2 separate regions of the Homo sapiens genome follow, and region 2 is linked to region 1. The links come from fine-mapping of genetic effects on gene expression. A gene starts in region 1. The other region holds a variant in brackets. All regions are shown on one strand. Distances are from middle to middle. Region 1 holds the start of GPR161 (G protein-coupled receptor 161). Region 2 has its middle 10 kb from the start of TIPRL.

What was found. PIP is the estimated chance that this variant, and not a neighbour inherited with it, causes the effect. A credible set is the group of variants that fine-mapping cannot tell apart.
Region 2: its variant is the best candidate, but not a certain one, in a credible set for the expression of GPR161 in cerebral cortex (GTEx, PIP 0.85).

Annotation. Positions count from the first base shown.
Region 1 is chr1:168,134,284-168,139,665 of GRCh38, forward strand. It overlaps GPR161 (G protein-coupled receptor 161), which reads right to left and starts at 2,647. Exons shown (of 6, transcript NM_001375883.1): 1 at 2,456-2,647. RefSeq lists silencers at 2,290-2,519, 3,048-3,342.
Region 2 is chr1:168,166,020-168,171,401 of GRCh38, forward strand. No RefSeq gene overlaps it. Among named protein-coding and RNA genes, the nearest start is that of TIPRL, 10 kb to the right of the region's middle. The variant ATTC/A (reference allele first, on the strand shown) is at 2,678.

The DNA of each region.
Region 1 (5,382 bases):
TGAACATATTTGCCATGAATGCTATCCTCTCCCCTGCTGAGCACATAAAATGTGCAAGGAAATAGATTAAAACTAGTTGTAAGCCTTTTCTCTTGGTGTAGAAACAGAGTCATAGACGAGTACTGGGTGAATGAATGAAGTATGGAGTCATAAAGTCAATCCCTCCTCCAAACTCCAGGTAGCACTGATAGCTATCTCTAGTTCTGTTGATGTTTTTTGTTCTTATAGAAAAACAGCAAGAAGACACCATTTCTCCCCTGCTGTCATGCTTTACTGCATCTCAGAATGACAGTCAGTGCTTCCCAAGGTCTCACACAGAAGACGCAAGCAGCCTGCACACATAATTTGGTTAAACTGCACGCACATTAAAAAAAATGTTTTGAATCAGTTGCTATCTTTAAAAATATATGAAGCTTGTTTTCCGTAAAAATTTACAGTTTCCCCCAAAACTAAGATCAGGCAACCATGTGCTGGAGCCCCACCGCACCTGCAGCTGCCCCCTTACTGGAGACAGGCTTAGCAGCACACAGCTCCCACCCAGCCCTCCTGTCCACCCGCCTCCTGCACTCAGGCTTCCTGACTGGTCCCTGCTGGCAGTGGAGTTTACACCACAGAACTGTACCTCCTCTTGCTGACATTTAGGTCAGTTCCAGTTCAGCCCATTCTGTCTTCCTCGGAACCCAAACAGAGAGCTCGCAGCCCTCTGACCACACAGTGCTCCTTCACCTCTCAGAGGACGCACAGTGCACCAGGCTGCAACACAAAGAGAACGGTTCGGATATCGTTGCGGCCTTGGATTAGTTCCAAAATGTCAAGCGGGCCTCTTAATGAGGGGTCTCTATTCTTGATGTTATGGCAGTGGAGCTACAGGGCAGGGAGAAGCCCTGAGTTAAAGAACTCACCTGTGTGCCATCAGGAAACCACGTGAAAAGCACTACCAAGGCAAAAGATCTGAGTTCAATCTGGGCTGCTTACCTAGCTGGGCAAGAATGCTTCATCTCTCCTGAGCCTCAGTTTCCTCACCTATCAAATGGGCTAGTAGAGCTTCACAAGGTTGTTGTGTGAATGAAAAAGTGTACATGAAAGTGCTTGTAAGCACCTGACAAGTATAAAATAAGACGGGTGTGGAGGAGGACCGGAAGAGAGGTGCTCTGAAAGAAGTAACAGAAATGGGTGCCATGCATTCCAGTTACAGTTGAAGAGCCTCTGTCTCTATGACCTGAGGTCCCTCCCACCTCCTCTTTCTGCCCTGAGGGCCTGAAAAATGCCTCTCTTCACTTGCTCCCAGTGGCTGCAGTAAAATAGATTATAAGGGAAAACCGCCTATTCCCCGAAGCAGTAGCTCTCCAGAACTCATCTGGAGGTCCAGGTCACTAGGGGAGAAGAAGCCAGGCTGAATCCACGCCTGGCTCCACGGAGGAGCCACAAGGATGGCCATCCTCCCCCAGCCCCTAGGACGCTGAGACAGGCTCACCGGAGGTTATCGGTGTCTCCATTGGACAATCAAGGAACTGAGGTTCTTTCCCTCCAAAACCACACACCTCCTCACGGCTTCACCGGGAGGTGGATCAAATGACCTGCTCTATGAAAGCACTTTGCAAAAGGGATGAAAGTACAATAACAAGCAAAAATAGCCTCCAAGATGTGATATAAAGCGATGCCAATGCGCAGCTATGTGGTTACTGGTGAGCAGACCTCCGGGAAGCACAGGACACACCCCACTTACCCAACAGACGTTCTCATCCCATATGCCTTTGTCCAAAGGTTGCACGGGGGTTAAGCTTGGCCCAGAAGGCGCCGAGGGCTGGTCGAGTTCTCCCCTTTCCAAGAACCAGCCGAATCTCCCTCCCGCAGATCTGAGGGGCAGAGCCGCCCATCCGGCGGCGCCGGGCCACTTCTGGGCGCGCCACCCGCCGCCCGCCCAGGCTCGGGGAGACAGCGCCCTGAGTCCCGGCTGGGAGAAGGCTGCTCACCTGGTCCTCACGGATTCCAGCCGAGGGGCGTGACCGCTTCTCCCCACACCCTTTGCCCTGAGCGGGACGTGGAGTCTCTTGGCCCCAGGGGGCGCGGCCCGCATCGGCAGAGTCCCGGGCACGCACCTACGCCCTCCCATCCAGCGGACTGTTTAGGGGCTTCGGGCGGCGCCGGAGAAACGGGGCGGGCTGCACCCAGCAGAATGGGGTGGGCCTCTCAGAAGCCCCAGGCCGCAGGGGAGGGGCGCGCCCCCAACATCTTCCCACAAAGAGCTCCAGCTCTCCAAAGCAAGGCGCAGTGCGGGCGGAGGACAGCCCTGACCTCCGAGAGGGGCGCGGGGAGAAAGGGAGCGCCGTGGGGGCGGGGACCCTTCCCGGCCCGCGCCCTGAGCCCTCAGCCTCGCACAATGAGTTTAGCCTGGCTCCATCCGGACCGCCCTCTCCGCCCGGGCCCGCGCCCGCGCCCCACGCCGGGTGCTCACCGAGGAGCGGCCGCCGCGGCAGCTCAGGCCCCGGCCCAGCCGCCTCCCCGCCTCGGCCACCGCCGCCGCCGCTTCCTTCCTCCCCGCCGCGCTCCGGGACTGGAGGTTTCGGGTTTCAGCCCACCGAGCCCCGCTTCGCTCCTCCCGCGGGCCAGCCACCAGCACGCGGACCCGGGCGGGCGCAGGCCAAGTAACTTTGCGGCGCCCGCGCCCCGCCCCGCCCCCCCCACGCCCGGCCGGGCCCCTCCGGCCCCCGGAGCCCCGAGCCGCCTCCCCGCGCCCCGCACTGCCCCGCCCCGCCCAGCTCCCGGCGCCCCTCCCCACCCGCGCCCCTTCCTTCGCGTCCGTCCGCCCGCCCTCCCGGCTGCTTCTTTCCCATTTCTTCCCACGAACAGCCTCGGCTGCTGCTCTTTGTCTCGCCCTTACCCTCTCGGCTCGCCCCACTTTTCTCCTGAAAACCTTTGTGGTGCCTAACTCAGGCCTTCCCTGTTCCCGTTCCTCCGCCCCAGTTCCAGCCGCTGGGACGTCGCCTTTTCCATGTCTCTCTCCATCACACAGACACTTTCAGATTCTTCCCGCAGGCTCCGCACAGTCCCATTCTCCTCCTCCAGTCCCGCCGTGGACGATCCTGGTATCGCCTTTGCTGCTCACCTTTCATTCATCCAGCCGACGGGCACGAGCATCCATCTGCCTTCTGCCAGGCTCTGTCCCGGGCTCTGTTAATACCACAGTGAATTCGTCCCGAAGCCAGCCCCGGGGAGTGGGGAGTGGACGTAAACAGGTCTTCACACTGCTGCCCTGCACTCCCTCGGAACCAAAAGGCCAGGGAGCAGTCATCACAAAACAAAGAGCGGGCGCTGTCAGCTCGGGGGACGGAACAGTTCCTTCTCAGAATGTTTGTTTTCCCTTCCTCACTCCCCACTTTGCCTGCCTGTCTCCAGACTCCTACGTTTTCTATGCAGCAGTCTTAATAAGGGGATGAAAAGTTGAAGCACAGAGTAGAACTGCTAAAAAGGGAAAGAAGGAAGGACAAACAGGGCAGCAAAATAATCAGGTAAGAAGTTACAAAGCCCAGTTCACTAAACTCCAGAAAAAAAAAAACAAACCCTGATGCTGTGCTTAGAGCAGGATTCACATTCCTCTGAAATCCATCTGCTTTGATAAATACATTAATTATTCCCTTGTCTACAGATTGACACTGTGGGAGATGCTTCCTTAATATTATTGGGCCACTGAGGCACAATTTAGAACAGTAATTTACTGTCTGGCACCTGCCAAACACCCACATTGCTCTGGGGACAAATGGGATAATGGGGAGAAAAAAGTAAATGGGTGCCTTAATATTCCTATGGGATAAATGCTTTATTTGGTCAAAAACTGGAAGCTGACGCTCCACTTAAGAGTCTAGGTCACGCGGCAAGCCAGACACTTGAAGGAGCTTAAAGCTTTCTGTTCTTAATAGTATTTTAGACACTTATTTTGAAATCCCTGATATTTATTTAATTTACACTGACTCAGATGTCGGCTAAGCTCTATGAGCCTGAGGGAGTGAGTTAACCTTCCTCTCAGCTTATTCATATATAAAATGGGGATACTCATACTTTCCTATCTGTAGAGTTGAAAAGGTTAAATGAGGTCATGTAAGTAAATCATCCAGTGACATAGAATCTGAGAACTAAACCCTTTTGAAAATTGGTATTCACGAAAGGTCTGAAAATATATGCCACAGACTGGCATGGTGAGAATGAGAATAAAAAATAAACAGTTACGGCTGTTGTGGCTCCATACCCATCCATGATGCGAAAGATGTCCTTCATACTGAGCAACCTTTTCCCATACTTACTCTATTTCATTTTGAACTCTTCAACAGAAAACACTTTTTTTCTCCTGCTGCTCATTATCAAATGCATTATTTATCACAAAGATTTTTCTTTTTTCTGAGCTCATAAGCTCAGAACTTACTGTGCATTCAGGGATGGAAATTGCTGCCAACAAATGCATTTTCAATTGCTCTCTTAAGATTTTTTTCCCTTCTGGAGCTAATATTGAGCTATGAGCAGAATTCAATCAGATGCAGAGAAAACAGACAAATTATTATTAAAGTAATTATTTCACCGTATATCATTGTATAGGTGACAATTGTGAAAAACGTGACTGATTTTGTGCAAGAATGTATTTATATTTTTTTAGAAAAAGAGAAAGATACACACTAATTCTCCTTTCCCAAATTAGTTTAATAAACCATTCTGTTTTAGAGACATCCACAAAGACTTATAAAGTAAGATAATGAGAGGCCTTGTCCAACTGAACCTCACATGTGTGTTGAATAATTTATATATAAAACATATTTTATGTAAAATATCATTTCAGTCTAGCAGTCCACATAAAACTGGTGAAAGCAAAACTGTGAAATATGCTATTTGTTCCACATGGAATGTTATTTCCTCCACTCTTTACAGGCCAAGCCCTTCCTGCCCTTCACATCTCACCTTAAATGTCACTTCCTTAGAGAAGTCTTCCCTGATGGGATCTTGCTATGTTGCCCAGGCTTGTCTTTAACTCCTGGGCTCAAGCTATCCTCTCACCTTGGCCTCCCAAAGTGCTGGAATTACAGATGTGAGCCACTGCACTCAGCCCCTGACCAATCTAAAAGAAATTCTCTAATCTATGTACTCTTTCACAGCTCTGTTGTTTTTCTACATAAAATGTGTCCAAATTTATAAAATATGCATCAATTTTTCTATTTATTTGTTTACAGTATGCCTCCACTGATAGAATGGTAAAACCATTTGACCTCAGATGGAAACTTCCCTGAAACTGATGTGCCTCTGGACTGATCAGAAACAAGAGCCAATCAATATACATATATTTTTATTGAATCAGTATGGGTTTATTTCTGTTACTTGGAACAGAAAGCATCTCACTCA
Region 2 (5,382 bases), 32 kb after region 1:
ATGTTTTTATGTAAAAGAATGAGTTAAATTTTATTCATATTAAGAATTAAACTCAAATTGTAAAACACTTATTGTGGTGTCTGGCACAGAATAGGTATCCAATAAATCATAGTTATCATTATCATTATGACTATTACCAGTTTCCAGCTCTTCTCTCCTCAGAGTGCATGTGTGTTTATGTGTGCATGCACACACACACACAGCTAACAGAAGAAAAGCACTGTGCCTACCAACTTGTAGGGACATCCTATTTCACCCAAGTGTATTCTGCTCTCTCTCTCTGGTGAATGTACCGGCTTGTAAGTAGCTACTGTGATTGCCTTCGTCCACAGAGTCTCCAAGTTGAGTGTATATAAGATTAGTCTGAGGACCTTGTTAAAAACAAAGACCACCACTTGAATTAGATCCCATGCTTACAGACTCTGAATCAGCAGTTCTGGGTGGAGCAACAGGAATCTGATTTTTGTCAAACATTCCAGATGATTCTAACGTACGTGCAGCTCCAGCACCACACTTTGAGAAACAGCGTCACTGTGAATGCACAAGGCCACTGCTGCTACTCTATAATACTAATGGATAGTGTATTGAGTGAGCACCTTTGAGAGGCACTATGTTAGGGACTTGTGTATATCTCATTTAATCTTCCTAACAATACTATGAGGTATGCTATTACTAGAAATAATAATGAGAAAAATGAAAAAAGTGAGGCTTGGCAGAGGTCACATCACAATGAGCAAATGGAGAGCCAAGATTTGAACCTAGGCAGCCTAACTCCATATCCCTGGTGCTTAGCCACTTAAATCCCTCCCCTATTGTATTAGTCATGGTTCTCTAGAGGGACAGAACTAATAGGATATATACACACACACACACACACACACACACACATATATGTGTGTGTGTGGGATATATATATATGCTGGGATATATAGATATATATGAATATATATGCTGGGATATATATATATCTATATATATCTCTAGAGAGATATATATATATATATATAGATATATATATAGGAGTTTATTAGGTATTAACTCACATGATCACAAGGTCCCACAATAGGCCATCTGCAAGCTGAGAAGCAAGGAGAGCCAGTCTGAGTCCCAAAACTGAGGAACTTGGAATCTGATGTTTGAGGGCAGGAAGCATCCAGCATGGGAGAAAGATGTAGGCTGGGAGGCTAGGCCGGTGTAGTCTTTCCACGTTTTTCTGCCCGCTTTATATTCTGCCCACCCAGATTAAGGGTGGGTTTGCCTTTCCCAGCCCACTGACTCAAATGTTAATCTCCCTTAGCAACACCCTCACAGACACACCCAGGGCAATACTTTGCATCCTTCAATCCAATCAAGTTGATACTCAGTATTAACCATCACACCTGTTTAGACTTTTCCCATTTCTTTTTTTTTTTTTTCTTTTTTGAGACGGAGTCTCACTCTGTCACCCAGGCTGGAGTGCAATGATGCAATCTCAGCTCACTGCAACCTCTGCCTGCCAGGTTCAAGTGATTCTCCTGTCTCAGCCTCCCAAGTAGCTTGGATTTTCTCCTGTCTTGGCCTCCCAAGTAGCTGGGATTACAGGCGCACACCACCGTGCCTAGCTAACTTTTGTATTTTTAGTAGAGATGGGGTTTTACCATGTTGGCCAGGCTGGTCTCAAACTCCTAACCTCAAGTGATCGGTCCGCCTCCACCTCCCAAATTGCTGGGATTACAGGAGTGAGCCACAGCCAACTTTTCCCATTTCAAGTGAAGAATCCACTTGCCAAAGCCTAATTTTTTCTTCTCTGCTCAGCTTGCTCTGATTGATCTCATCCCATGATAGCAATACCCCATTGGGACCTTTTCCTTGGGACCTTTCCTTCCCCTTCTTTCCCTTCCATTCCTTTCCCTATCAGTCATGGAACTCACACTGCAGTGATAGGCCTCTGCTTCCAGGCCCACAGCTAACTTCGGCAATAACAGCCTCCTGCTTTTGCTCACCAGGAGAGAGGCCTGACACCACTTGGGAATCCACTTAGATCTCAGCCCTCATCTTCCTTTATCCTCCCTCTACCAGCTCGTTCCTATCACCAGGGGTTGAACTTAAGCTTATGATTTCAGAAAGACTGTGTTTGCCCATTCAAATTCCTTGCATGTAAACTGCTTCAGTTTCTTTTACCCTTTTTCTCCTTCCCAAAATAAGCAGGGAAAAGAAAGAAAAATATTTTGACCATACAACATTGCTGGACAGAAAGAGCATGAATTCCTATTATAGTTCTGCTTGGTTTTGTTTTATTCTTTGTTTCCCTGGTAGCTATCTTAGAAATTTCTGGTTCACCTGCTTCATTTCTATCTTCAGAAATTAGGATGAAATAATTCCCGTAGTGATATTTTGCTCATCTCCTAAAGTTTTATAGCTTGGCATTTTGGTAACCTCAATTAAAGTACACACATACAAAAATCTATCCTGTACTAAAGTTTATTGCTATGAAAGACATTTTTAAATGTCTAATGCAAGCTTGTCCAACCCATGGCACTCAGGCCACATGTGGATGAGCCAGGATGGCTCTGAATGCAGCCCAACACAAATTCATAAACTTTCTTAAAACATTACATTATGAGACTTATGCACAGATTTTTTTTTTTTTTTTTGCTCATCAGCTATCATTAGTGTATTTTATGTGTGGCCCAAGACA[ATTC/A]TTCTTCTAATGTGGCCCAGGGAAGTCAAAAGATTGGACACCCCTGGTCTAATGTCTTACAAGAAATTATCTAGTGATTTTCTCACAACCTTAAAAGTAACATTTGAATCAAGCTCTTTTATATGTTTATATTTTCCTGAGTACCCGAATGAATGCCCATTTACACTAAAACAACACCAGTTTTCTTTTTTTGTTTGTTTGAGACAGAGTCTTGCTCTGTCGCCCAGGCTGGAGCGCAGTGGCGCGATCTCAGCTCACACTACAAGCTCTCCGCCTCCTGGGTTCACGCCATTCTCCTGCCTCAGTCTCCCCAGTAGCTGGGACTACAGGCACCTGCCACCAACAACACCAGTTTTCTATAAAGTGGACACAGTTACTTCAATAGTTAACACTAATTATGGTAACATGATATAGTGCAGCTGTTTCCCTTTATAAATGATTCTCAAATAAACCTATTTACTCATGTTCCATTAGCTGGGTTTTTTTTTTAATTTTTGTATGAGACAGAGTCTCGCTCTGTTGCCCAGGCTGGAGTGCAGTGGCGCAATCCCGGCTCCCTGCAACCTCTGCCTCCAGGGTTCAAGCGATATTTGTGCCTCAGCCTCCGAAGTAGCTGGGACTATAGGCATGCACCACCACACCCGGCTAATTTTTTTTTTTTTTTTGTATTTTTAGTTGAAACGGGGTTTTGCCATGTTGGCCAGGCTGGTCTTGAACTCCTGACCTCAGGTGATCTGCCCACATTGGCCTCCCAAAGTGCTGGGATTACAGGCATGAGCCACTGCGACTGGCCCCATCAGCTCTTTTTGCCACTTTGCATGCCATACACTTAAATCTATCCTGACAATGTGTACATGTATTATATATATATATATATATATATATGTATATATATATACATATATATACATATATATATGACAGAGCATTAAAATGTTTATGTAATGAAAACTTTGCCAAAAAATAACATCAAAGACAAAAATCAATAGAAACAATTCTATTGATTTCCAAGATGATCCACTATAACCCAGCTGAGTGCTCTGAGAGAACTAATTACAGCATAAGCTGGGGACCACTATGACAATGGCCACATGGTGGGTGCTGATCCGCTCTCCAGACAGCTGAAAATTCACTTTCCTTGTCAATTCAAAGAAATGGTTTAGAAGATAAAGTAGAAGTGTTAATTCTCCTAATTTCTCATAATCCAAAATTAGTGTATATCGGATTATGACTGCAGATATGAAAGACCTAGAAGCCTGACTTATAAGTAGATATTCCTATTTTGCATATTTGGTAAGCCTACATATAGTAATTTTATCTTTGACTTTTGACTACAGTTTCACCTTACCCAGAAATACCCTAATATTTGCTTTACCTCTTTACCCATGCTTTTGTGGGTCCTCAAACCTTGCCAGGGTGCTGGGTGGACATTAGGTCTGCTTTTGACTACAAAAACTGTAAAATAAATACAGGTTGAATTTTATAACTTTTTCCATTTCTCCTTCCTCTTTTCTTTTTTCTTTTTTTGAGATGGAGTCTCACTCTGTCGCCCAGGCTGGAGTGCAGTGGTGCAATCTCGGCTCACTGCAACCTCCACCTCCTGGGTTCAAGCGATTCTCCTGACTCAGCCTCCCAAGTAGCTGGGATTACAGGCATGTGCCACCACACCCGGCTAATTTTTGTATTTTTAGTAGAGATAGGGGTTTTGCCATGTTGGCTAGGCTGGTCTCGAACCCCTGACCTCAGGTGATCCACCTGCCTTGGCCTCCCAAAGTTCTAGGATTACAGGTGTGAGCCACCACACTCAGCCACTCCTTCCTCTTTTCATATTCCACTCTATTACCTTTGTCTGCCAGCCCTATCCCCATCCACTGGGCTTGCCTGTACTAGCAGTCCCACATTAAAACTCCTCTTATTTCTCCCCTAATTAGCACAAAGGCCAGTTATAGACATTGAGGATGTGGGAGCATATGCCTCTGAGAACCACTGTCCCCAAAACCCCATGGGCTTATACCAGCATGACCAAATCTAGTCATGGTTGATTGGGCCATGATAGACACCTGACTCAAGCTGAGCCAATCAGATTCTCTCTTTTGAGAATGTGAAAGGCGAACCAAGAAATGGCTATCAAGATGTCTATTAGGAAACTGTGTTTTGGATGGGTGCAGGAAGCACACACAAAGAGAAGCTGACAGAGCTGGTCTGCAAAAAGAGAGAAGGAAGCAGAGAGCTAAACTGAAGAAGAGAACAAAAGAGAGAGATGAGGAGCCGTGAGAGAGTTAGAGAGACTGTGTTCAGCTGACCAGCACCCCAGGTTTTTCAGTTCCTCAGTCCTTTGCTCTTGAGGCCTGATTATTCGCTTTCTCCTCACATAGCAAGAGGTAACTCCAAATCCTGAAATCATTCTCTTCTTTTAAGAATAGGCTGCTTTGCTAAAGCTAGTTTGCAGAGAGTTTCTCTTACTTTCAACCAAAAGTAACTCAACTAAGGTACTACACCCTTAGGGAATGTGTTTTTGTGTTTAGGAGTTTCATCATCACTAAACTGAGGGATCCTGAGGCCTTCTTCAGGCCTATAAATCCTGGAGACTGTTTTAGGCCCCAGGCTAACTTCCTGTGAGCTGCTCCCTGTTCCCAGGTCTCCACTAATTATCTCACACATCTGCTGCTTCCGTCCACTGTTCTTTTTTTTTTTTTTTTTTC